Homo sapiens: one gene and its partners. The protein of the gene in region 7 purifies or fractionates together with the protein of the main gene of each other region. This does not show direct contact. Each region holds a gene or a part of one and is shown on either strand. Other genes may lie near its edges.

What was found.
Region 1: the proteins of PTPN21 (region 7) and NRG3 purify together in Homo sapiens (affinity purification with western blotting, with the first as the bait; one study listed by BioGRID). This does not show direct contact.
Region 2: the proteins of PTPN21 (region 7) and BPIFB1 purify together in Homo sapiens (affinity purification with mass spectrometry, with the first as the bait; one large-scale study listed by BioGRID). This does not show direct contact.
Region 3: the proteins of PTPN21 (region 7) and AKAP8 purify together in Homo sapiens (affinity purification with mass spectrometry, with the first as the bait; one large-scale study listed by BioGRID). This does not show direct contact.
Region 4: the proteins of PTPN21 (region 7) and CEP85 purify together in Homo sapiens (affinity purification with mass spectrometry, with the first as the bait; one large-scale study listed by BioGRID). This does not show direct contact.
Region 5: the proteins of PTPN21 (region 7) and DUSP7 purify together in Homo sapiens (affinity purification with mass spectrometry, with the first as the bait; one large-scale study listed by BioGRID). This does not show direct contact.
Region 6: the proteins of PTPN21 (region 7) and STXBP4 purify together in Homo sapiens (affinity purification with mass spectrometry, with the first as the bait; one large-scale study listed by BioGRID). This does not show direct contact.

Annotation. Positions count from the first base shown.
Region 1 is NC_000010.11:82,354,194-82,357,693, reverse strand, and holds part of NRG3 (pro-neuregulin-3, membrane-bound isoform), read right to left. Parts: intron 1-3,500. UniProt on the Homo sapiens protein: Direct ligand for the ERBB4 tyrosine kinase receptor. Binding results in ligand-stimulated tyrosine phosphorylation and activation of the receptor. Does not bind to the EGF receptor, ERBB2 or ERBB3 receptors. May be a survival factor for oligodendrocytes.
Region 2 is NC_000020.11:33,300,214-33,303,713, reverse strand, and holds part of BPIFB1 (BPI fold-containing family B member 1 precursor), read right to left. Parts: intron 2,482-3,500; coding exon 2,302-2,481; intron 1,356-2,301; coding exon 1,302-1,355; intron 799-1,301; coding exon 640-798; intron 1-639. UniProt on the Homo sapiens protein: May play a role in innate immunity in mouth, nose and lungs. Binds bacterial lipopolysaccharide (LPS) and modulates the cellular responses to LPS.
Region 3 is NC_000019.10:15,359,288-15,362,787, forward strand, and holds part of AKAP8 (A-kinase anchor protein 8), read right to left. Parts: intron 2,965-3,500; coding exon 2,823-2,964; exon of another isoform or gene 2,764-2,822; intron 2,536-2,763; coding exon 2,442-2,535; intron 1,692-2,441; coding exon 1,561-1,691; intron 1-1,560. UniProt on the Homo sapiens protein: Anchoring protein that mediates the subcellular compartmentation of cAMP-dependent protein kinase (PKA type II).
Region 4 is NC_000001.11:26,240,700-26,244,199, reverse strand, and holds part of CEP85 (centrosomal protein of 85 kDa), read right to left. Parts: intron 35-3,500; coding exon 1-34. UniProt on the Homo sapiens protein: Acts as a regulator of centriole duplication through a direct interaction with STIL, a key factor involved in the early steps of centriole formation.
Region 5 is NC_000003.12:52,053,772-52,057,783, reverse strand, and holds the start of DUSP7 (dual specificity protein phosphatase 7), read left to right. Parts: upstream 1-1,212; 5' UTR 1,213-1,417; coding exon 1,418-1,934; intron 1,935-3,409; coding exon 3,410-3,844; intron 3,845-4,012. UniProt on the Homo sapiens protein: Dual specificity protein phosphatase. Shows high activity towards MAPK1/ERK2. Also has lower activity towards MAPK14 and MAPK8. In arrested oocytes, plays a role in meiotic resumption.
Region 6 is NC_000017.11:54,992,765-54,996,264, reverse strand, and holds part of STXBP4 (syntaxin-binding protein 4), read right to left. Parts: intron 1-3,500. UniProt on the Homo sapiens protein: Plays a role in the translocation of transport vesicles from the cytoplasm to the plasma membrane. Inhibits the translocation of SLC2A4 from intracellular vesicles to the plasma membrane by STX4A binding and preventing the interaction between STX4A and VAMP2.
Region 7 is NC_000014.9:88,478,508-88,482,007, forward strand, and holds part of PTPN21 (tyrosine-protein phosphatase non-receptor type 21), read right to left. Parts: intron 1,846-3,500; coding exon 413-1,845; intron 1-412.

The DNA of each region.
Region 1 (3,500 bases), on a different chromosome or scaffold from region 7:
GAATGGATAAGGTCATCAGGGTGAGGCCCCCATGATGGAACTGTTGGCTGTTCAAGAAGAGAAAGAAGGACTGAGTTGACATGCTCTTACTCCCTATCCATGTGATGCCCTGCACTGCCTCAGGGCTTGCAGAGTCCTTGCCAGCAAGAATGCCCTCAGCAGATGCAGCCCCTTGACCTTAGACTTCCCAGCCTCCAAAACTGCAAAAAATAAATGTATTTTCTTTATAAATTACCTAGCTTCGGGTATTCAGTTAAAGCAATAGAAAATGGACTAAGACAGTAAATGAAGGTCACAATGAGCTTCTTCCCTGATTATCGTCACAACTGATGGTGAGCGAGCAGTTTAAAAGGAAACTCACCCCTGTCTCTCCCACATCTAAAAATCCTCATGGGCTCTCCTGTGGGAATAACTTTAAAATCCACAGTAGGGCAAACCAGGGCATGGGCCATCTATATGTTTATCTGTCTGGTCTCTTCTTGCACTCTAAAACTTTATGCAACTTAATTTTCAACTATCATTCTATTTCCCCAAAATACCAAGAACTGTCACACTGCTCCTTCTTCCCAGACCTTCATTCTTTGTTGAAGACACCCAGAAATCCTCAGAACTTAGATGATCTCATCTTGTGCCTCCCAGTGCCTCTTATCACTTTCATCACTGCATTCAACACTGCAAGTAATCCTTTCTTTGTTTTATCTGTTCCTTTCTTCTGTAAGGTCCTTGAGGGCCTGCATGGAGGCTTAATGAGAACTGGTGTTCAGAAAAATATCTCCAAAATCTCTGATCTCTCTAACATCAACAATTAAATGCTATAAATGAAAGCTATAATTAAAAACCTCATTATAATTTTATAAAAGTTAACGCATTTTGTACAGCAAAAAGTGAAGTATAATTTAACATTTATGTTATCATTTTAGTATACTTTTTATAATATTGATAAAGATTGCAACAGCAAGGCCTTCAGATTCACACAGACCCTCACACATATGTTACTCATATTCCACGAGCACTGAAATAAACCACTATTGGTATTGCAATGGGAACTTATGTTTTCCATTTCAAAATATCTGCTTGTTAATACTTTGGCACAAAATAAAGGCTCTGCAAAACACACACATTTTCCATCTTGCAGGAGATTCTCTACAGAAAAGATCTGTTATTCAAGACAGTACGTGATAAACAGTCACACAGAATCAATCTCTCTATGGGAAATATTTAAAATTCAAGAGCTCTGAGCAAAAAATTCAATATGAAACGGTGCACAGTTGACTGCTACTCTGGCTGCTGAAGTATATTAACTCATGATCAGTTAGTTAACTTTTCCTTTAATTTCTTATTATCCATTTATTGATATTCACTGATCATGCTTCTAAGAACAGCTTTCATTAACATAATCTACAGCATAAAAAGTGAGATCCTTATTTTATAATCAGTGGTTTTAACAAGCTACAGACTTCAAGTGCAATACAATGGCAAAGCAATTACAATCAATTAATTTCCATCTGACAACTGCTATCTCTAGTGGTTACCGCCCCATTCTACCAACTGATTTCTCCATCATGTTATCATCTATCAGCACATTACAGAGGATCAGAGACCCAAGTCAATGGCTCTGCAAAAGTCTGGGGTGGGAAAGCTCAGATATCAGGCTTAACATGTACTGAGGCTTTCCATTTCCATAGCTTAAAGAATCTCCAAATTAATTTAAAATGCACATGCTTAACCTTCACAATGACTTTACTGAATTCAAAGAAAACAACATTATTATAACTTTTTAATGACAATATAATAAACAATAATAAAATATTGGGTATGATCATTCTCTAAGTAAATAACTGCAATTATCAATACATTTGAAACCTTAGAATATACCTATGCATTTTACTATATATTATCTACATAGTATTACCCACCTGAAATCACAGAGGCATTGGCTAAGGTAAGTGTAATTCATCATGAGGTGAAATTTTATTCTTGAAAGTCATCATGCAAAATATGTGTATGGAAATATAGGCAAATTCTGGACCCTTAATAAACTCACGAGGTTGCTACGCTAACTCTAAGACCACCTACTTAGATTTTTCTTGACTAAATAATAAGCATACTGTGTCCAAGTCACTCTTACTGAGGTTTTCTATCACTTACAACCAAACAAAGCCTACTAAAGAGATGCTAATAATTTTGGATGATATCCTCCTACATTTGTACATCTGATTAAAGTTCATGTATGTATTCATACATCTATTTGTTTAATTTTCAACATACAAGATACACTACAAAACACATAAAATAGAACATAAATAAGAATGAGCCAAAAATAAAATGTAAGGTGCAATTCTTTATTTTCTTTCTGTGCCCTAAGGTGGCACAGTGTGCTCTAATGTATCCAGCTGAGTGTTTTATTCTGAAGAAGAAACACGGAACATTTGTGAGAATGAGAACATGGATAAGATCTAATGCCAAACTATAAAAGTTATGATCCTAAACAACCTTGGTGTATCTTAGTAATCAAAAACTCTCATCTGTGAGCAAATTCAACACTTTTGGAAGCTTGTTTATATTTTTTAAAGCTATGCCACTTTTAAGACAGTCCAATACACTAAGCTGGCTATGCTATATGGTACTATTTTGGCATGTACTTAATCAAACTTCTGTTTCTAGGAATGTAATTTGGTAAATAATTTGTTATAGAGCTATTGCCTTCAAAACAATTATATGGATGAAGGTTCCTGTAAGTAAACAGGAGGGGCCTTATGTTCCCGTGAATACCAATTTGTATTTCAAGGCTTTCTTTAAGTTCCCTTATTTCAGAGTGGGCCCTGCTATCAGACATCATTCTCTCCACATCCATCAGCTTCTGAAGCTCCCATCTGACTGTCTGACTGGACCATGAGCTTGCTTCCACTGAGCAGAGCAGGTCTTCACATCTTTAATCCTTGGGCTTATGGATGGCATGACACAGAGGCACGGAATAGGAATTTACAGAAGGGAGAAATTTTGGCCCAGCGCGGTGGCTCACATCCATAATCATAGCAATTTGGGAGGCCAAGATGGGTGGATCACCTGAGATCAGGAGTTGGAGACCAGCCTGGCCAACATGGTGAAACCCTGTCTCTACTAAAAATACAAAAAATTAGCCAGGCATGGTGGCAGGCACCTGTATTCACAGTTACTTGGAAGGCTGAGGCAGGAGAATCACTTGAACCCATGAGGTGGAGGTTGCAGCGGGCTGAGATTGCGCCATTGCACTCTAGCCTGGGTAACAAGAGCGAAACTCTGTCAAAAAAAAAAAAAAGGACAACTTTTTTATACAGCATTTTTCTAATTGTTTGTGTTAAAAAGTGGTATCACAGGCCAGGCACTCTGGCTCACACCTGTATCTCAGAACTACAGGAGCCAAGGTGGGAGGATCACTTGAACCCAGGAGTCTGTGACCAGCCTCGACAACATAGGGAGACCCCCATCTATACAAATAATAATAATAATAAATTATTTGG
Region 2 (3,500 bases), on a different chromosome or scaffold from region 7:
GACGAAAGCAGCCACTATTCATAGAGCCCTCACTCCCTTACCCTAGTGTGTAGGTGGCCCAGCTCAGGAAGTTTTCATATTCCATTTTTCTGGACACACTGATTGGCTCAAGAATGGGCAACTGACTCAGGCTCATTCAGTGAGAGTCAGCCCTGAGATGTTTGCTGGAACTATTGGAAAGATAGGTTCTTCCTGCGGTGATTGCCAAGCTGATAGGATATGAGCCTAATGCAGCCTGGGGCACTACCATGAGGGAATAGCTTGCCTGAGGATGAAGGCAGCACAGAGGAAAACAAGGCTGCTAGGTGGGAGAGAGGAGAATGAAGAGGATATTGTTTGAGCACCTGGGTCCAGCTATTCCCGAAGTCAATAGCATCTAGACTTTTTAGTTATAGGAGCTAATACAATTCCTTTTGTGCATATGAGTTGAGTTTCTGTCCAGAGATTCCTGACTAAGAAAGTCACAGGGTTAGAATTGGACCCACAAAGCTCCTGGCTCTTGGTTCAGAGCTCCCTGTCCCCTGTCCCTGCTAAGTGATGAGAGTGGTGGAAATGTTTAACAAAGCAAGAGGGCGAACAGGAAAAGTAGACAGAAGGGTCCCCCTGGTTGCTGCCAATATCGCAGACAACTGAACTCACGATGCCCAGGGTGAACAAAGGGCGGAGGGCTTCACTGGAGGGAAACACTTCCAGCACGATCAGTTGGGCCACCTTGGCATGGCCTTGGTCTATAAAAAACTCGGGAGTGTCCTGAGTTAGGATCTTCACGATCTGGGTAGATCCCAGCTTATCTGCAGCCTGGAAGGAGATCAGACCCACATGTGGCCTCCCAAGTGCCCACCATGGCCCACAGGCTCTGTGTGTGGCCTGGCCCCTGCCTGCCTTCCTGGGCTCCCTGCTCCCTCACGTGTTCCAGCCACCCTGTCCTTCTTGCAGATCCTTGAATGTTGTGTTGTTCTCCCTACCTGGCAGCCTTTGGTCTCCTGTTCCCTCTGTCTGGAATGCCCTTCCCTTCAGGGAGGCCTCCCTGACGTCCCAGACTGTATCAGGGGCCCAGAGTGTTCTCATGGCCCCTAGAACCTGTCCTGTGTTACTGCAGCTGTAATGGAAATACTATCCATGTGATGATTTGCTTCAGGTCAAACTGGCCTGCTAGACTGAAATCTCTGTGCGGACAGGGATGCGGTTTGAGTGTCCCAGTGCTGGAATGAAACACTAGTCCCACTAGATTCTCCTCCCCAGAGGCCTGTGTCCAGACCACAGCAAACACCCCTCAAGCTGCAGATGGCAAACAGACCAACCTTTTCATTGATCAGCCCGATGCTTGACTTCAGCCGATGGGCACTCTCAGGAAGCTGAGGGTGAGAGGAGCCAGAGAAGGTCAGTTGGAGGGCACAGGGAGGCACATCTCCTGCACCCCACTGCTGGGAGGAAGGTTTCCCAGGACCCCAGAAAAGCTGGGTGGGCCCAGTGACCCAAGCCATGTGTCTGTCATTGGTGGAAAAACAGCCCCTAGGTCAGCTTCTATGGGGCATGGGGTCCTGCTGGCCTGGACTTTTACTGTGGGCTGGTGATGGTTGTGGGTCTGGGGGCAGCTTCCTGATCTCAGAGGACATAGAGAGGTGATTTCATTTTTACTGCAATCATGAATGGGCTAGTTGGTGACCACTCCCTATTTTCTCGCCATCCCAGTCCCCTGAGAGCTTGGTTATTGGTTGTCTGTCAGCTGCCCTGAAGTTCTGCCATCCTCCCATAACGTTGGACCAACCCTTTCCCCCTCTGGACCTCAATTTCCCCGTCAGTCACCCGGGAGGAGGTGGCACAACATAGTTGACTGGTGGTGGTTATCGGCTGTGCCCTGTTAATAAGGATTCCAAGGTTGTGTCAGCATCCAGACTCAGTAGAAAGGAGAGCCTTGATCGATTAGTGATGTCTGCCATGAGTGTCATAGTGGTGAGCAGTGGCACAGTCGCCATCCCTGGACTACTCACTATCTGAGATGTATTTATCACCCCTGGACTACTGCATATCTAAGATGCCTTTTGATTTCACGAGACTGTTATTTGGTAGAGGAAACATTTGCATCAGATTCCAGAGGGTAGAACCATGACTGGGGCTGGATGTTACCGGGAGGATTTTAGGTTTAGAGCTATGTCAGAGGCAGGGTCTATTAGAGGAGGGAGTGAGATCTCCATTAAACTGAGCCTGATGGAGGATTCCTGCTTAGGGGCACCCTGTGTTCAGGAAATTCCTATGATGTGGCCTGGGCGGCCCTATTCTCTGCCTTGTGCTGAGGTTTACCACAGAGTCCAACAGGACCATGAATTCTTCTGGAGAGAGCACAGCAGCCACTGCAGCTTTCACCACGTCCTGACTCACGATGAGGCTGAACGGGATGTTGTCCAGGGTGGGCATTGTCAGGGAAGCTGCAGAGTTATTGAACCACTTGGTCACCTTTCCCTGTGAGTCCAACAACTTGGCCTGAGGAGACAGAGCAGGGAGTCAGCTAAGAATTTTAACTCTGCAGCTTACCCAATAGCAACCTAGAAGGAAATGACACCATTCAGCCTGTTTCCTTTTTGTGCATTTGTTGCCAGGAAGCTTAGCCTGGAGCTCAGGTGTGTGGCAACATCTACTCCATCTTTGCCCCTCGGATAATCTCTGACTTTTATTTTTTGTACCAGATATCTTCGTTTTTTTTCCCATGCTTCAACTTCTCAGACACCTCAAACCCTTTGGATGGAGGGAAAATTAAAAACTACAACAAAATGGAAGAAACGATTTGATGCTGCAGTTTTCCAAAGGATCCATAGAAACTAGTCCAGGGGCCAGGCGTGTTGGCTCATGCTTGTAATCTTAGCACTTTGGGAGGCCGAAGTGGGAGGATCATTTGAGCCCAGGAGTTTGAGACCAGCCTGGGCAACATGGCGGAACCCCATCTTTACAAAAAATACAGAAAATTAGCCAGGCGTGGTGGCGAGTGCCTGCAGTCCCAGCTACTCAGGAGGTTGAGGTGAGAGGATCGCTTGAGCCCAGGAGGTCAAGGCTGCAGTGAGCTGTGATGGCACCACTGCACTCCAGCCTGGGTGACAGAGTGAGACTCAGTCTCAAAAAAACAAAACAAAAGAAACCTAGTCTGGGATTCATGCTACCAGGATGGTCTGGCCCTTTGGGGCGTCCAGCCACAGCATGGCTGTGCAGCTCCACATTGGACAGGGAGCTGACAGTTACTGGGCACTTCTGGTCTGCCAGGCATGGTGTGGTCTCATTTCATCCTCTCCTCAGTGGCCATTATTACTGACATTTTGCAGACAAGGAAACTGAGGCTCAGGGAGGTAAAGGAACTTGCCCAAAGTCACATAGCCAGGGAATCATAGAGCTAGGAGAGAAACTTAGGTCTGTGTTTCTTGATCCTTGGCTTTTGTTTCAAGGTTGTCATAGGTTTGGGGATTGGCAGGGACTTGCCTGAGAGAAAGGCTGAGGGCCCAGTGTCCCCACTC
Region 3 (3,500 bases), on a different chromosome or scaffold from region 7:
ACCCATGTAGCACATGCAGAATTGGGGGTGAAACAAGAGCATTTACAAATGAAAGGCTGTGTGGACTCAGTGGAGGAAAAGGACAAGCTCTTTCTTTTCAGTTTTTGGGGTTACATTGATTTCATAAGTTCAACAACAAAAGTATGAATATGCTGGGTGTGGCAGCTCATGCCTGTAATCCTAGCACGTTGGGAGGCTGAGGCATGTGGATCACTTGAGGCCAGGAGTTCGAGACAAGCCTGGCCATCATGGTGAAACCCTGTCTACAAAATATAAAAATTAGCTGGGTGTGGTGGTGCACACCCGTAATCCCAGCTACTCAGGAGACTGAGGCATGAGAATTTGGGAGATGGAGGTTGCAATCAGCTGAGATTGTACCACTGCATTCCAGCCTGGGCAATGGAGTGAGACTCTGTCTCAAAAAATAAAATTAAAAACAAAAACAAAAACAAAAAACAAACACACAACCATGACTGCACCAAGTCTCTGTTTTAGAGCCTGACTTGTTTGCACAATGGTCCCTTGTTTGTATACTGCTTTTCAGCTGATCTTTAACAGTACTGGGGCTGGGTGCAGTGGCTCACACCTGTAATCCCAGCACTCTGGGAGGCTGAGGCGGGTGGATCACCTGAGGTCAGGAGTTCAAGACCAGCCTGGCCAACATGGTGAAACCCCGTCTCTATTAAAAATACAAAAAATTAGCCGGGCATTGTGGTGGGCGCCTGTAATCCCAGCTACTTAGGAGGCTGAGGCTGGAGAATTGCTTGAACCTGGGAGGCAGAAGTTGCAGTGAACTGAGATCGTGCCACTGCACTCCAGCCTGGGCAACAAGAGTGAAACTCCGTAAAAAAAAAACAAAAAAACAAAAACGTAAACCAAAAAACCAAAACCAAAACCAAAACCAAAACACAGTACTGTGAGATGGGTGAGCAGCTCTTGACCTCCCCATTTAATAGCTGAGTAAACTAAGGAGAGAGCTGCTAACCCAGGGCCAGAAAGTGACAGGCTGCAGAGCAAACGCAGCCACAGGCACTCTTCACTGTCTGCTTTTCTGCACTGACAGCAGGTAGAGCTGTTGCTGGATAGGGCCTCTATGGTCTGCAATGCTAAAAATACTCATGATCTGACTCTTTACAAAATAAGGTATTTTTCCAGCATCTTCAACACTTGACCCCTGGGCTCAACATTTAGCCTGAAGCCCCAGCAGCTAGGTAAGGACAGAACCAGTCCTTTAGTCCAAGTCCCCTGGGCCACTCAGCTTTCAATGGCCCTTCGGTCTCAGCTTATGGAAGCCCCCAGGCCTTCCGCTAGTGGGAAAACTGACCAACGTGGAAACACTATCAGGAGAATCTCAGCTACTGCATTTAATCGAGTCTAAGCAACACATTTTCTCACATTTTTATAAAAATTGAGACGAATCTTACGACCCATCGATGGAAGTGATAGACTTGAAACATAGCAAGAACCCCTAAAGATGTTGTTATTCCCCATAAGACACAGCAGGCTCTGAGCCGCAGCCCTGCAATGAGCACCCCAGGCAGTGTGGGGAGGAAGACTCACCCTGCGGTTGTGATTGTGGTCCACGGAGTGCAGGTGCCGCTGGAGGAGCTGCGGCTGTGCAGGAATTAGCATGTCGCAGGCCAGGCAGTGAGCAGCCTCGATCTTCTTGAAGAAGTGCTCCTGGCCAATCCCTGCCAGGAAACGCATGTCTTGTAGGATCTGGGACAGCAAGTGATGCTTTCCTCCTACTCCCCATCTGGGCCCACGTTTTCTCCCTGCAACTCTAAGGAATCAGAAGGGCACAGCCTGCCTTTCTATGGGGAGTATGGGTCAGCACATCGGCCTCTATAGCTGTGAATTCTGCACTTTTCAGCTTTTCTGTTCCTCCTGGTTGTTTCTTTTCAAACCAAGGAGGAAAAGATATGAAAGTGCTTAATGTCACTGATATAAGCTGCAATCTATGCAAGGCCACATCCGAAGGTTTCTTTCCATTGCTGCTGAGCGCTCTTCCCACGGGTCTCGTCATCACCTTCTCAGCCAACTTGGGCTGGCTTCATGCCACTTTTTTTTTTTTTTTTTTTGAGACAGAGTCTTGCTCTGTCGCCTAGGCTGGAGTGCAGTGGTGCAATCTTGGCTCACTGCAAGCTCTGACTCCCAGGTTGACACCATTCTCCTGCCTCAGCCTCCCAAGTAGCTGGGACTACAGGTGCCCGCCACCACGCCCGGCTAATTTTTTGTATTTTTTTAGTAGAGACGGGGTTTCACCGTGTCAGACAGGATGGCCTTGATCTCCTGACCTCATGATCCGCCTGCCTCAGCCTCCCAAAGTGCTGGGATTACAGGTGTGAGCCACCGTGCCCGGCCTCGTGCCACGTTTTACGGGTCCTGTCACATGCCTTACTACCATCCAGGAAAGCACTCATCCTGGGATGACAACTCACCTTTGAAAGGATCTGGTTTTGGTTTTGCGGTTTCTTTCTCCATCAATTCCTGACGCCGCTTCTCAATTTTCTTATTTCTGTTTACAATGTATTCCTAGGTGGGATTGGAGAGGGCATAAAGTAAAATGAGAGGTGGGCGCATGTGGGCATTTCTCAACTGCCAGGGCTAGGCAGGCAGCTATCAGAGCAGCTGCGTGGGGCAGCACAGCACGATGGCTGGAGCTCCCGGTTGTCCCTGTGACTCAGGGACTTACACAGCTACTCTATCTGGGAAAGGAAACCTTGGCCAAGTATAGCCTCTGATTTCCCTTCCTCCTTCAAGGGATCCGGCACCTGCGGGATGGGCAAGAGACGCGGTGACGGGGCCCAGGTTTCCTTTACCTGGAGGAACTCCACGGTCTTGTCGGGCAGCTTGGTGCTTATGAACCGCAGGGTCTCTTTGTGAAATTTGCTTTGCAGATGCTTCTGGATCTCTTCGTCATCAAAGCTACGGAACTTGCATACAGAACAGGCAAACTGAATTCTGTAGAAGGAAAACAAGGAGGGGAGTGAAGCAGGGAGCATCAGCGAGTGAAGCAGGGGGCATCAGCTCACCTCTGAGGAGAGCTGAAATAGAAACAGGATTTTCAGCTCTCCCCCTCCCCCTCTCCCTCTCCCCACGGTCTCCCTCTGATGCCGAGCCGAAGCTGGACGGTACTGCTGCCATCTCGGCTCACTGCAACCTCCCTGCCTGATTCTCCTGCCTCAGCCTGCCTACTGCCTGCGATTGCAGGCGCGCGCCGCCACGCCTGACTGGTTTTCGTATTTTTTTGGTGGAGACGGGGTTTCGCTGTGTTGGCCGGGCTGGTCTCCAGCTCCTAACCGCGAGTGATCCGCCAGCCTCGGCCTCCCGAGGTGCCGGGATTGCAGACGGAGTCTCGTTCACTCAGTGCTCAATGGTGCCCAGGCTGGAGTGCAGTGGCGTGATCTCGGCTCGCTACAACCTCCACCTCCCAGCCGCCTGCCTTGGCCTCCCAAAGTGCCGAGATTGCAGCCTCTGCCCGGCCGCCACCCCGTCTG
Region 4 (3,500 bases), on a different chromosome or scaffold from region 7:
CCCAGGGAACTGCCCTTCTGAATCACATCGGAACCTGAAACAAGAGGCATTTCCCACCTTTACTGTGAACCAGCTGATGTAACCCCATCAGATCTTTTTTTAAAAAATCACATAAACCTAAGAGAATAGCAGCAACCCACCCCTTTCTCTCTCCTGTGCCTATTTCAGCTGCTCCGATCTAGTTTTTTTTTTTTTTTTTTTTTTTTTTGAGACGGAGTCTGCTCTGTCACCCAGGCTTGAGTGCAGTGGCGCGCAGCTCACTGCAGCCTCCACCTCCTGGGTTCAAGCAATTCTCTGCCTTAGCCTCCCGAGTAGCTGGGATTACAGGCGCCCACCACCACGCCCAGTTAATTTTTATATTTTTAGTAGAGACGCGGTTTCACCATCTTGGCCAGGCTGGTCTTGAACTCCTGATCTCATAATCCACCCGCCTTGGCCTCCCAAAGTGCTGGGATTACAGGTGTGAGCCACTGCGCCAAGCCTGAGCTAGTTAATTTTAAGTGGAAATAGTATGAGAAGTGAGAATATTCAAAGATGTTAATAAGACCCATGAAGAATCCAGGAGTACTGGAACAGAAAACAATCATATTTAATAGCAGTGGCCATTTATTGAAACCTGTAAAGCCACAGGACCTTACAAACATAATCTTGCCTACCTACTTACTGAAAAGTATTACCACCCCTATTTTACAGAGGGGAGGGCTGATATTTGAATCCAGTTCTTTCTGATTCCAAAACCCACATTCTTTCCTCTTTCTTACAGTTTCTCAATGGTGCTTTTGGCATTCTGGGGATGACCATTCTTCAATGTGTAGTCTATACATTACAGAATGGTTTAGCATCCCTGGTTCCCACTCACTGAATGCCAGCAGCAACCCTCAACCAAGACCACCATCACTGTGAAACCAGAAAATAACCATATAGTTCCAAATGATTCCTAGGGCAACAAGCAGTCCAGTCCCCAGTTGAAAATCATTGCTTCGAGGTTGCAGTGAGCAAAGATTGCGCCACTGCACTCCAGCCTAGGCAACAAGAGCGAAACCCCATCTCAGAAAAAAAAAAAAAAAAAAAGAAAATCACTGCTTCACTGAACCAGGGTACCCTCAATAGGTGAATCCTATTGAGATCAAGGTGAGTTTTGAAAGTCAATCTGAAGAGCCTAGGGCTTTATCTTGAGAGCAACGTGAAGATATCACTAAAACTGCTGAGAAGGTTAAGACAAAAAGACTGATGAGATTTATTTGATTTAAAATATGCTGTTTGGGGGGAGGTAGGTAGGAAGTGTTCAATAAATACTTGATTCACTAACATTCTAGCAAAGACTTAAATTTATTTTCTAAAAACCACTATAATTTTCCTAAGGTGTATCTGGTGATCCATGTAAACAAATAAACAAACAAACAAAAAAACTAATGGCAGCTACTTATCCTCCATTTAACTTAAAGTGTGAAAGCCGATTTCAGAAAATACGGTTCTACAGACTCGCTGATCTAGTGGGAGGCAAATGATTGCTCCCACTAAATGATTACGCCCAAAGTAATTTGGACACAAATTACTTTATTCCTTTCTTCCAAGTTTAGTGCTTCTCTCATCTTTTTAATCTATTTTCTTCTACTTTTGCTCATTTTTTGCTACCCTTACTTTGGCTTTCTACTGAAGGCAACCTGACTTTCCCCAAATACTTCTTCTATTCTTTGGATCACAGTGACTGCCTGATTTGAAAGAATCTTTATACACTCAGTAATCTGTAATTGTTATAGAAGACACAGGCAACAATCCGAGTTTCTGAGCGGCATGAGATTAGCCAATGCTACTATACTAAGTTGGTGTAATTCTAGCCCAAAGCAAAGAAATCCCACCTTCTGGTGAGTCTACACAGCTTTTTCTCTCTAGTCAGTGTAAAATTTGCCAGGCCTTTTGAAACAGTTAAGATTGAGGGCCTCTATTACCATCTTCCTGACTTCCTACTGGAAACCGCTTCCCTGTTACTACTACTAATCTTCCACTCTTCATCGCTACCATTTTTCCATCCACCTACTCCATACCCTAATTCCAAAGAGTTATTTGTTAAAAATATATTTTGGTATATTTATAGAGGTTTACACTTATTTCAAAATTGAAGTTTAAATGCTGAAGTTGGCCGGGTGCAGTGGCTCATGCCTGTAATCCTAGCACTTTGGGAGGCGGGGGTGGGCAGATTACCTGAGCTCAGGAGTTGGAGACCAGCCTGGGCATATGGCGAAACCCGTCTCTACTAAAAATACAAAAAAATTAGCCAGGTGTGGTGGTGCATGCCTGTAATCCCAGCTACTTGGGAGGCTGAGGCACAAGAATCACTTAAACCCAGGAGACAGAAGTTGCAGTGAGCTGAGATTGTGCCACTGCACTCCAGCCTGGGCCACAGAACAAGACTCCGTCTCCAAAAAAAAAAAAGAAAAGCTGAAATTTTTTGTGTTATAGTGCATGTCCTATCAGTAGCATCCTTATCAATTATTAAGACCATTATTAATCTGAATGAGATACTATTGAAGAGAGAAAAAAGCCATAGGAAAGGCATTGTTCCAAAAACTTGCATTATATACATAATTGTCATAGAAACTGTACAAACCTAAGAGAATGTGCAGCACATAGCAGATGTTTAAAAAATATTTCCTGAGGCCGGGTGCAGTGGCTCACGCCTGTAATCCCAGCACTTTGCGAGGCCCAGGCGGGCAGATCACAAGGTCAGGAGATTGAGACCATCCTGGCTAACATGGTGAAACCCCGTCTCTATTAAAAAATGCAAAAAAATTAGCTGGGCATGGTGGCGGGCACCTGTAGTCCCAGCTACTTGGGAGGCTGAGGCAGGAGAATGGCATGAACCCGGGAAGCGGAGCTTGTAGTGAGCCGAGATCACGCCACTGCACTCTAGCCTGGGTGACAGAGCGAGACTCCATTTCAAAAAAAAAAAAAAAATTCTGCTGAATGAATCTTGAATTGATTCAACCAAAGCTTATAATGGTGCCTACTCTATGCAAGGCAGCATGCCTAAGAGAATACACCAAACATTTACCAAATATCTACGCTGAGTAAGGCACTGTGAGATTTTAAAGTTAAATAAAACATACCCTGAGTTGAATTAAACGTGCCCTCTTCTTTACCAATACCCCAGAATTCAACAAGTCATTTTTCTAAAATATTACTTATTTGAAATATATATTATCTACTTAATATGCCTGCACAGTGCATACATATATTTATGTGTTTAATATACAGTCAGCTCTCCATATCCATGGTTTCTTTTTTTTCCCCTTTTTTTTTTTGAGACACAGTCTCACTCTGTTGCCCAGGCTGGAGTGCAGTGGCGTCATCTCAGCTCACCTCAACCTCTGCTTCCCGTGTTCAAGTGATTCTCCTGCCTCAGCCTCCCAAGTAGCTGGGATTATTATAGGCACATGCCACTGCACCCGGCTAATTTTTGTATTTTTAGTAGACATGGAGTTTTACCATGTTGGCCAGGC
Region 5 (4,012 bases), on a different chromosome or scaffold from region 7:
TCTCAGAGCCGACCAGCCTCGGGCGGAGTCGGGGGGTTAAGCCCCAAGGAGGGGCACCCCGCCAGGCAAAAGAATGGACCAGATAGACGGCAGGGTCCAGCCTCAAGCTGCCACCCTGGCTCCGTAGGGAAAGCACTGCAGGTCCTACGCAAGCGCGCCGCCTGCGTCTAGCCGCTTTGTTCTAGCGCTACCTGCGGGTCCATTCACCTCCGCTGCCCCGCCTGCCTGCAAATCGACACACAGGGCGGGCGGAGGCCCCGCCCACTTCCCCGCCCTGGGTGGAAACCGCGGCGGGCCCCGCCTCCCTCCGCCACCGCCTCTTTCGGCCAGGATTGGCCATCTGCATGGCAGGCGCCCGCCTACCGCGGAAGTTGATTGGTCCGTTGAGAGGGAGGCAGGGGAAGGAAAGCTGATTATAAAGGAGCATTCCCCTCCCACCGGCCCCGTGGAAAAAGTCACGTGGCGCTTCACTGGGCGCCTGTCACCACCCCGCTTGTAAAGCTTTCTTAAAGGGCTCGCGATCCCTTCCCAAAGCTGGTCCTTTCTAGGATTTCTCCACACCTGCCCACGGAAGGTGGCACGGCCCTGAGTCTTCCTACCCCGCCAGTTGCCCAGGTCCTGATTTCCCATCAGGCCTGCTGGCGTGAGACGCTCTCCCTCAGGTCTGGAGCCTGTGACCGTCAGGGGAACGATGAGGTCCTCTGAAACGGTGACCGCCTAGCACAGTGCCTGGCACGTAGTAGGCGTTCAGTTCTCATTTGTTGAATGAACTCGATGACAGAAAAAATGAATGGGATGACAGGCGGGAGGAGGAGAGGTTGCTCAGCTTGACCATCCCCCCCACCACGCCCCGTCCCAGGAAAACTATGCTGTTGTGAATGTGGGGTGGGGGTGCCAGGCATAGGACGCCCCCAGGGCCTCTCTTCCCGCAGTGTCCAGAAGAGCTTGGGAGCACGCGCAGAGTGAACCCATGAGGGCGTCTAGGCCGGGGTCCCTAGGCGGATCGTAGTCAGCTCCGAGCTAGTCCAGGGGGCAACGGTGCGGAGGCGGTGGGGGAGGGCCCCGCCGCTGGTCTCCCGGGCTCGGGTCGCGAGCGCGCCCGCATACCCCGTGGGGAGGGGCGGTGGAGGCGCTGCGCCTTTAAGCCCGGGCGCCGGCCCCCGCGGCCCCGCCCCCCGGAGAACGCCTCGGCGCGCGGCCGCCGGAGCCGCCGTTTAATTGGGGCTGTCAGGCCGCGGTGCGCGCGGAGGGCCGGGCGGGCGGGCGGGACGGAGGCCGGGAGGCCGGGAGGCCGGGGCGGCGGGCGCGCAGCTCGGCGGGAGGCGGGCGCCCGGAGACGCGGCTGGGGCCCGCGCGGCCGGGGCGCCGTCCCAGGGCAGGGCTGCCCGGCCCCGGCCCCGGGCCGCCCGCGCTCCCCATGAAAAACCAGCTCCGCGGCCCCCCAGCGCGGGCGCACATGTCGACTTCGGGGGCGGCGGCGGCTGGGGGCACCCGGGCGGGGTCCGAGCCCGGTGCGGGGTCGGGGTCCGGCGCAGGCACCGGGGCGGGCGCGGCGACGGGGGCAGGGGCCATGCCCTGCAAGAGCGCCGAGTGGCTGCAGGAGGAGCTGGAGGCGCGCGGCGGCGCGTCCTTGCTGCTGCTCGACTGCCGGCCGCACGAGCTCTTCGAGTCGTCGCACATCGAGACGGCCATCAACCTGGCCATCCCGGGCCTCATGTTGCGCCGCCTGCGCAAGGGCAACCTGCCCATCCGCTCCATCATCCCCAACCACGCCGACAAGGAGCGCTTCGCCACGCGCTGCAAGGCGGCCACCGTGCTGCTCTACGACGAGGCCACGGCCGAGTGGCAGCCCGAGCCCGGCGCTCCCGCCTCCGTGCTCGGCCTGCTCCTACAGAAGCTGCGCGACGACGGCTGCCAGGCCTACTACCTCCAAGGTGAGGGCGGCACCGAGACGCCTTACGGGATCGGGGCCCCCCCGCGACTCCCTGACGCCCCCCTTGGAGGCGCTTTCCTCTCCACGCGCTCGGCCTGCCCCTCTGGGCGCCACGTCGTCCCCGGCCCGCATCCGCCCTCCTGGAGCCGGGTCCCCACTGTGTGGTTTGGCAGGCGCGGGGCTCCCTCTGCGCCCCCTTTCTCGGCACGATTCGAGTGGGTGGAACAAACTTTCCCCTGCCTGGGGTTTCCTTTTTTTTCCTGTTGATGGGGCGACAGTAGTGCCTGGGCTCCAGTGGAGCCCCTCAGAGGTGGAAGGCGCCGCCTCCCAGAACCCTAAAAGCGGCAGGGCGCCCAAGTCCAGCCTAGAATTCGTGTTTCTGGAAGGCCAGGATCAGGAAGGGCACCTTTCATAGCACCATCCTCACCTCCAGCGCATGGAGACCATTTGGGTTGGGGTCTCCTGGATCCGGGAATTGCTTCTTCCACCGGAGAATTGCCGCCTCTAGGAGGCGCTTGGGGCAGGGTATGGGCAGGCTCCATTGCCCTGGCCCGGGTCTCTCGGGACCCCCAGGTCCCTAGCCTGCTGCCCCGGAGCTTGCAGAAGGGAGAGGTAGCACCGGGGGGCGAGTGGCTGAGGCCGGTGTTTCCAATTAACATTCCAAAATGGCCTCTTGCTGGCAGCGGGGCGGGCGGGAGGGGAGGGGAGGCCTGCGGCACCCTCGGGCGCAGGGCCCATGCCTCGCTGCAAGGGGCTCCCCATTTCTCCTGTCCCTGTATCGCCCCAGTGGCCCTCCCCCGCTGCAGGTCCAAGGCTGGGGGTGGGGCTTGTGTTCTAAGGGAGGGTTCTAGAGAAGTGGAGCCAGGACCCCCTTCAAAAACCTGCCCCTGCTGGGGGAAGGGGCCAGCCAGTACCTTCCCACTACCCTCCCCAGCTGTAGTTTCGGGGCTGGGCAACCACTAGACTCCCGTTCAGGAAGCCCAGGACCTCTCTGCCTCTAACTGAGCCAGATGTGGCTCTGGCACCTGTGGTCTCATCTATAAGAGGAGTTTGCCAACCCAGAGGTGCTGGCTAAGATGGGGTTGTCTGCTTTTCTTTACCACTTAGCTGTTACTGAACACCCATGGGTGCTAGGTGTGCGTGGGAGCTGCAGAAGAGGAATTAGCTGGGGCCTGTCCTCAAGTGCCCTAAAGCTGGTGCCATGGCTGGGGGCCCCGAAGTGTTATGGGTACCAGTTTGGAGTCCAGGCACGTCACTTCACCTTCTGGGGCCTCAGTTTCCTTATCTGTGAAGTGGTCATGGTTTAGATGGAGAGAACACGAGAGAGGGCACACGTGTAACATGCTTGGCATGGCCCATGCTGACCGTGGGTGCTGTGGTGTTTGGCGTGCAGAGTCCTGGCCATCTCTGGTCTTGTGCAGCCCATCTGGGCTCTCACCAGCCTCTCACCCAGGCCCTGTCTCACCCTGGACACAGGTGGTTTCAACAAGTTTCAAACAGAGTACTCTGAGCACTGCGAGACCAACGTGGACAGCTCTTCCTCGCCGAGCAGCTCGCCACCCACCTCAGTGCTGGGCCTGGGGGGCCTGCGCATCAGCTCTGACTGCTCCGACGGCGAGTCGGACCGAGAGCTGCCCAGCAGTGCCACCGAGTCAGACGGCAGCCCTGTGCCATCCAGCCAACCAGCCTTCCCTGTCCAGATCCTGCCCTACCTCTACCTCGGCTGCGCCAAGGACTCCACCAACCTGGACGTGCTCGGCAAGTATGGCATCAAGTATATCCTCAATGTCACACCCAACCTACCCAACGCCTTCGAGCACGGCGGCGAGTTCACCTACAAGCAGATCCCCATCTCTGACCACTGGAGCCAGAACCTCTCCCAGTTCTTCCCTGAGGCCATCAGCTTCATTGGTAGGTGCTGTGTGCTGGGCAGGGGGGTGTGGGTGCATCAAGGTGTATGCAGGACTCTGGGTGGCGCCCCCGCCTGACTGGGTACCTCTGGGCCTGTTGAGACCTGTGTGTGCCCTACGTGTGCCAGCGTGTGCCCGTGGGTGTACCCAGGCCTACTGTGAGTCACCG
Region 6 (3,500 bases), on a different chromosome or scaffold from region 7:
GAATTCCCATCTAGAATGCCACCATCCACCCTGCCACTTCTCTGCAATAAACTCTGACTTAAACTTCACAGCCCAATTCAAACACTATCTCTGCTGGAAGTTTTCTCTAGTTGCCCAGGATTTACTTAATCGTTGTGTCTTTTTGCTCAAAAAGCACTTTTACTTACCTAAAGGATTGCACTTACTCTGTATGGTCCTTATGTTTACATATCTGCTTTTCCCTGCCCTCACATTAGAATATACTAAATCAGCAACTCCCAGTCTAGGGGCAATGATTCTTTTAGTGGGCCAGAATCACCAATTCTTTCATTAGGCATAACTAGAACTCTGTCCTTTTCATGGTTATTTCCCTGGTACAGTGCTAGGTACACAGTAAGTCCACAATAGGTTAAAGGGGGCCAAGAAACAGTCTGAGGAAATTAAGGTAGCTATGACAAAAATAATAATGGCAAAGGAATAAAGAGAGTGACACTGCAAAGCGAACCATCTTGGCTGCTACTTCTTCAGCTCCCACCAGTGGGACTGGTTTCTTCATAGTTTGCCATCCAGAGGCCTGATCCTGATATTTATCTAAAAGCCTTAGCCCTGGTTCCAGTGCTATGCTCCGCATGAAAACAGATTTCCTCTGAAAGTTAAATATGTCCTACTTCAATGCCACAAATTACATGATGACACTGACTGTGAGACCTATAATTTCAGAGATAGAAGAGGAAAAAATACGTACATACACACACTCATAAGTATATTACATACCGATATATGCATGTTATATATATGTGTGTGTGCATGCATAGCTTATATGTATATGTTTTAATGTATATCTTAGAACCAACTGAAGAAAATATGAAATATACTATCAGATTTGAAGAGAGGATTTTGATTTCTGTCTGCTTTCCCTATGTTACCAGCAACAAAAGAAAGAAATAAAAATGAACATTTGAGAACTTTAAAGTGTTGTCGGAAATCTGACACAAAGGCCCAAGGAGGAAGTACCTTGGTGTGGAGCCCAAATGGTGCCAGTGGAAGGGTAAATAAGCAGATCAGTAATCCTCAGAAATGTGAGAAAATGACTACGGGACCGTTCATTCATAAATTTAAATTGAGCAAGTATGTATGTGTCAGGCACCACAGTGGGGACTAACAATATTACTGTGAATAAAATCAGATAGCATCCTTGCCCTTAAGAAACATACTGTCTTGTGGTTCAGGCAGAGATGATTAAACAATCATAAATATAAATATATCATTGCAAACTGAGGTAGGTGACACAAAGGAAAGGAATGGGATTTAGGAGCATATGTAGAAAAAAATAAAACCTAGCCTAGACTGGGGGAAAGCAGGCAACACAACCCTTAGGCAGCAGTCTTTGAATTGATAACTGGAAATAATGGGGGAAAGGAAATGGAGTGCTGTTTCCTAAGGGAACAGCATATGAGATGGAAAAGAAAAAAAAAAAAGAGAAATTCGCCCCTTCCAGGAACTGAGAAAATGCTACTCTGGAAGCATAGTGATGGAGAGGCAGAGAAGGACAGGGCAGAAGCCACACTATATGGAACCTTGCAGGCAACCAAATATTAGTAAGATATGTAGGTTGGGAGGGAAATAGGTATGGTGCATAAGAACAAACGATGCTACTGAAAGGGCTGATTCAAAACTGATGACAGTTTAAGCTCCAGTGATAAGAATAAAGATCAAGAAGACTGATGGGTTCAAGAGATATTTCGAGAGTAAAAAAGTCAATGGTATGTGTTAATGAATTGAACAGTGTTATGGGAGTTGAAATAGGAAGCTGTTAAATTTTCTGACTTTGTGTAGCTAGAAGCTGTCATTCACCAAGACTAGGTAAACTGGAAGAGACTCTGTTTGGGAAGAGTTGAGCAGAATATGGTGTGATGTAAATGTCATGAGTTCTGCTTCAGAAATGCTGAGTTTGAGATACCTTTAAGAGGTCCAAGTAAAAATGTTGATCAGGGAACTGAATATGGGTATGAAGCTTAAAGGAGTGTCTTGGCCAGAAAAAGGGTCTAGGATTGACCCCAGATAGATATGGGACTAGCTGACACAGTGAAAGGGCCTTGGAGCTCTCTTATTTCCTTAACTTTAGCAATTAATACAGTAGTTCTCAATTTATAGGGTGCCTCTAGCTCTTAGAGCTGAGGGAATCTTGGTTCTGCTTGAACTGAAAAGATGTATTCATAATATCCCATATTTGAACTCTGGATATGTTTTTCAAAGAAACATACTATTTTGCTTCTACTAAACCAGTATTTTATTCTCATATTTTCCAGGAGGAAAACTTTTGGGGTGGGTGGTGGCAAACCATGAATAATTAAAGAAAATTTCTTCTGCGTTCCAATAACTCCCTTACAGTTTGGAAGATTTGAAAATATAAATGAAATATAATCTAGCTATAAGCTTGAGATAGCCTATACTGTTAATTATGAAACATTATAATGTTAAAACAAAATTACAGAAAGTTAAAGCATTCATATGCATTTAAAAAATATTAACAGTTACTCAGTTCAGCAACTTCATTAAGATAACCTTATGAGTTTGTGTTTCCTATTCCACAGATTCTACTATGTAGAAATTTTGTGCAGACTAGAAATTTATTAACATGTTAAAACAGTATTTAGAATATAGTAAATGTATTAATACATTGTTGTAAAATAAAGTTATATCAATTTTGTATTTGAAGAATATGCATATGCATAGAGCTCTCCATCTTGAGAAAATATTTAAAAATAATGTAAGCACTAGAAAATTACTTCTATAAATTTTTTTATTTTTTAGAAATGCTCTGTTGCCCAGGCTGGAGTGTAGTGATGCAATCATAGCTCACTGCAACCTGGAACTCCTGGGCCCAAGGGATCCTCCTGCCTGGGCCTCCAAAAGTGCTGGAATTAGAGGCATGAGCCATCACCCCTGGTCCTCTTCTCCTACACCTTTTTCTATCTTGCCTGTTTTCCTTGGTCAGATATGACCAGGTAGGAAGAACATTAATAGCTCTGTGCTGCCCTCTAGTGCTAAGTAGAGAATATAGTCAATGAGAAAATTTTGCCTTTTAATACTTCAGTAAAATTCTAACAAGAAAAAGTAGATATCATAAGAATAATTTCTTAATCTGCTATCACTGACAGAAGATAAAGAGTCATTCAGCACCACCGCTATCAACTTATTACTCTAACTCCAAATAGTTTTCATCGTAACAAACAAGCACAAATTGATGCTTGTCTTAAAAGCAAATTCTTAGGTCAGGCGTGGTGGCTCATGCCTGTACCCCCAGCACTTTGGGAGGCTGAGGCGGATGGATCGCCTGAGGTTGGGAGTTCGAGACTAGCCTGGCCAACATGGTGAAACTCTGTCTCTACTAAAAATACAAAAATTAGTTAGGTGTGTTGGCACGCACCTGTAATCCCAGCTACTAGGGAAGCTGAGAGGTGGGAGAATCGCTTGAACCTGGGAGGTGGAGGTTGCAGTGAGCCGAGATTGTGCCACTG
Region 7 (3,500 bases):
TCTTGAGCAAACTAAACAAATGCACCCCTGGGGTGCCACATCACCCACAGTATTTTTAATGGGTGGCTAAAGCAATCGTGGCTAAAGTAATGAAATCTTAACTGTCTTTCCCTTAACAGTGCATTACTAAAACATTTCATTCATCTTTTCCATTTCGACAAAACCCTGTGAATTTACCTTTTCACTTCATCTATAATAATTATCTCCAGTAAAACCACTAAAATTCAAGTGGATCCCCATGATTTCCATAAATTTAAATGTGTTCAGAATTAGACAAAAAGAGAGTGACGTGGGGGAATGAAGAACGTTAAAAGAACAAGAGGAGCTGAAAAACACGGGACGTGATGAGTGAAAGAAGCGCCAGGGCGAACGCGCGGTCCCCTGGCCCGGCACTGCTCGCCGCGTGGCTTACCCCTAGAGGCGGGAGCCCTTCCACGATGTTCTTCTTCCCAGAGAGAAGGTCCGACACCGGCCTTTTCTTCAGAGAGTCCCTCCGGGCTCGGTAGCGGCCTGACGTGGTGAGGTCGGACTCCGACATGGAGGGCATCAGCAGCCCGTCTCTCCAGGGCCGCTGGGCCTCTGCGGTCGTGCGGACGGGGCTGCTGTCCATCATCCTCTTCTCCGCGTCTGGGACGTGGGCCTTGGGCTCCAGGATGTGCAGGGGCCCGGCGAGCAGGACGCGAGGGCAGCCAGGTGGGTCCTGGGCCAGGCCGGGCCGAGGCTCGCGCGCACGTGCAGGAGGCGCCCGGGCCCCGCTCTCCTCCTCGAAGTCCTCGTCCTCCTCCTCCTCGCTGCTGTGGATTAGCATGGTGGCGTCCGACAGGGACTTCTTATGGCCGTACCTCAAGCCCTCCGCCTCCTCCGGCCCTTCTCGCTGTGTCCTCTCGGTGAAAACGCTGGGCTGGGAGCCCACCGAGACGGCTCGCGGCGCCACCTCTGCCGCCGACGCGGATAGGGTGCGCTCCTTGAGCCGCAGGCCCTCCAGGCCGTGGCTGAGCCCGGCCACCTCGATGCTGTTCCGTTTGTGCAGCTGCGCGTGGCGCGCGGCGGTGAGGGGCTCGCTGACCTCCTGCAGCGAGTGCGCCACGGGCAGGCTGTCCTCCTGGAACGTTTGCACCGAGTGGTGCACGCGCCGCGTGATGAGGTCGGGGTTGCTGCTGCTGATGTAAAGGTGGCGGGACAGGTCTGGCGTGCTGTTGGCGGGCCTGGGGGGCGGGTAGGGTGGGGGTGGCCGGTACACCTGCGTCCGCATGATGTTGGGAGACGGGTAGTCCTGCGCCTGCAGCTGCGCATTGGTCAGCTCCGGCACGCTGACCGCGCCCACCACGGGCCGCCGCTCGGCAGGGTAGGGGTAGGGAGACGGGCTGTGGAAGCTGTAGCTCAGGCTGAACGGGCAGTGTGCGGCCGCTGGCGAGGGGAGCTGTGCGTGCTCGCGGATCTCGGGCTGGCTGTAGACCAGCGCCGCGGGCCTGCTGTAGGCGTACGAGCTGCCGATGTTGAGGTTTCGCAGCGAGTGGCTCTGCCGTTCCGCATGCACCAGGCCCCTGTTGAGCTGCTTCATCACAGTCTCATAGTCTGGGGTGGGGCGGTAGGACGGGGGTATCACGGCGCTGTGCCGATGGGACGGGAGGTAGTCAGGCCTCATGACGTCACTCCCGGTGATGCTAGGGTTGGACGACATCGGCGAGGGCTGCAAGTAGGGCTGAGGATTATTTAAGGAGTTGGTGCTGTGTGCACTGTAGACACTGCCATTACGGATCCGACCGTTGAGGTCAATCTGGGCTCTATCCAAGCTTGTCTGAGAGTGACAGTAGTATCCGTTCTGGTTGGGCACAAAGAGGTTATCTAGAAAAAATGAGTTCAAAATGAGATTTTTTTAAATGGACTAATTACTCCAACCAAATACTGAGATCGGCCCTTACCTCTGATGACATTTTTAACACAGCTTGTAAAAATCCCCGCTAGAATGACCTAGCTTTAGCCACACTATCTGAGTGACCCTGGGAGCTTCGGCTTCCTCATCTATAGGATGGGCATGGCTCTGCCTACTTAAGGGGTGGCATTCATTGGGTGACAAAGTGAGACCCTGTCTTAAACGAACCACACCCACAGCAGACTAGCAGACTTTTTGGAACTCTGGGGAAGTTGAGGCAGAGATACCATTCAAGGCACTGGGCTGGGGACTCTGCCTTTCTTCCCTGGGTAGGGATGTGGCCTTGCTGCTGCTGAGCTAGTTCAAGCACCAACTGTCTGTAAGCATTTCCTTAACTGGAAATTTTTATTGTTCTTCCCAAATGAATATGAGAGCTTCGACTGTAAAAGGGTAATGGTATAGCAGGATCTGAACTTCTCTGGTCCAACAGTGTCACCAGCAGCCACACAGCCCATAAAGTGTCCAGAAGCCAAGAGGAGCCACATTAAACAGCTGCAGCTGCCCCCTGCCCTGGCCCCCATGTTTCAGGAAGATCCAGACCTGCAGCTAACAGAATCAGTTTAACCTAATCTTAAAATAGCTATGCATGTGTCCCTGCCCAGGGATGACAGGGGCCATGTTTCTTCTAGTCAATTTGTAGCTCACCTGCCCTCTGTTACTGAGGATGATTTCTAACCCTAGATGATTTCTAACACTCAGCAGCCAACTCCTTCAAATAACAATTTCCTCTGAAAGGCATTCTTTTTGTGCTTCGAAAGCTCCATGGTGATTTATGTGATCATGGTGATACTTAAGTAATACACCACAATCCAGTGGGTACACTTTATTCTGGTGGCACATGCAGCTGTGAGGAAATAGCACTCAAATCTCCATGGTATTCTTCTGCTGACACACAGCACTTCCATGTCACTGTGCTTTCCTCATTTATGCAAAGCTTGGTCATGGCTCCATCTCTGCAATCCCCCTTTCCTCACTGCTGCCACAGCTCGGGCCCCTACCCCAGCTTGTCTGAACTAGCTCTATATACACCTAGTCTCCCTGCTTCTGCACCCCACAAACCATCTAGCCATTTATGAGACTGTTATGTGGAAAAGGCAATACTAAGAATAGAAGGAGGAAAAGATGGTTGGAATACAGGCAAGAAAAGGGGAAAGGTATGCATGAAATCACCATAATTCAAGGAAGGGAGAAGAGATGAAGGGTTACAGGAGTCCAGAGGAAGAAATGCTCATTTCCAGCCTGAGTTGGGTTGATGGGGACAAGGAAGAGAGAACCAAGAACCACCTCACAAGATATGGCAGTTAAGGGGACTTGAGGGGTAAGTGGGTGGGGTGGGCGTGTCCAGCTTCCATCAGAAGTGAGGTCTCTCCACCTCTCAGAGCACGCAGGGTTACCCCTCCTCACCCCTTGATATCAGGCACAACAATGCGACTAGTAATGGTCAAGGGAAAGTGCACAGAGGGTTAAAAGCCAGCTTCCAGGCTCTCTTCCAACTGCAACACTGACCAACAACATTCCAGAGAGAAGAGCCTCTCCAGCTCAAGCCCCTACGGCAGACTCAGACAGG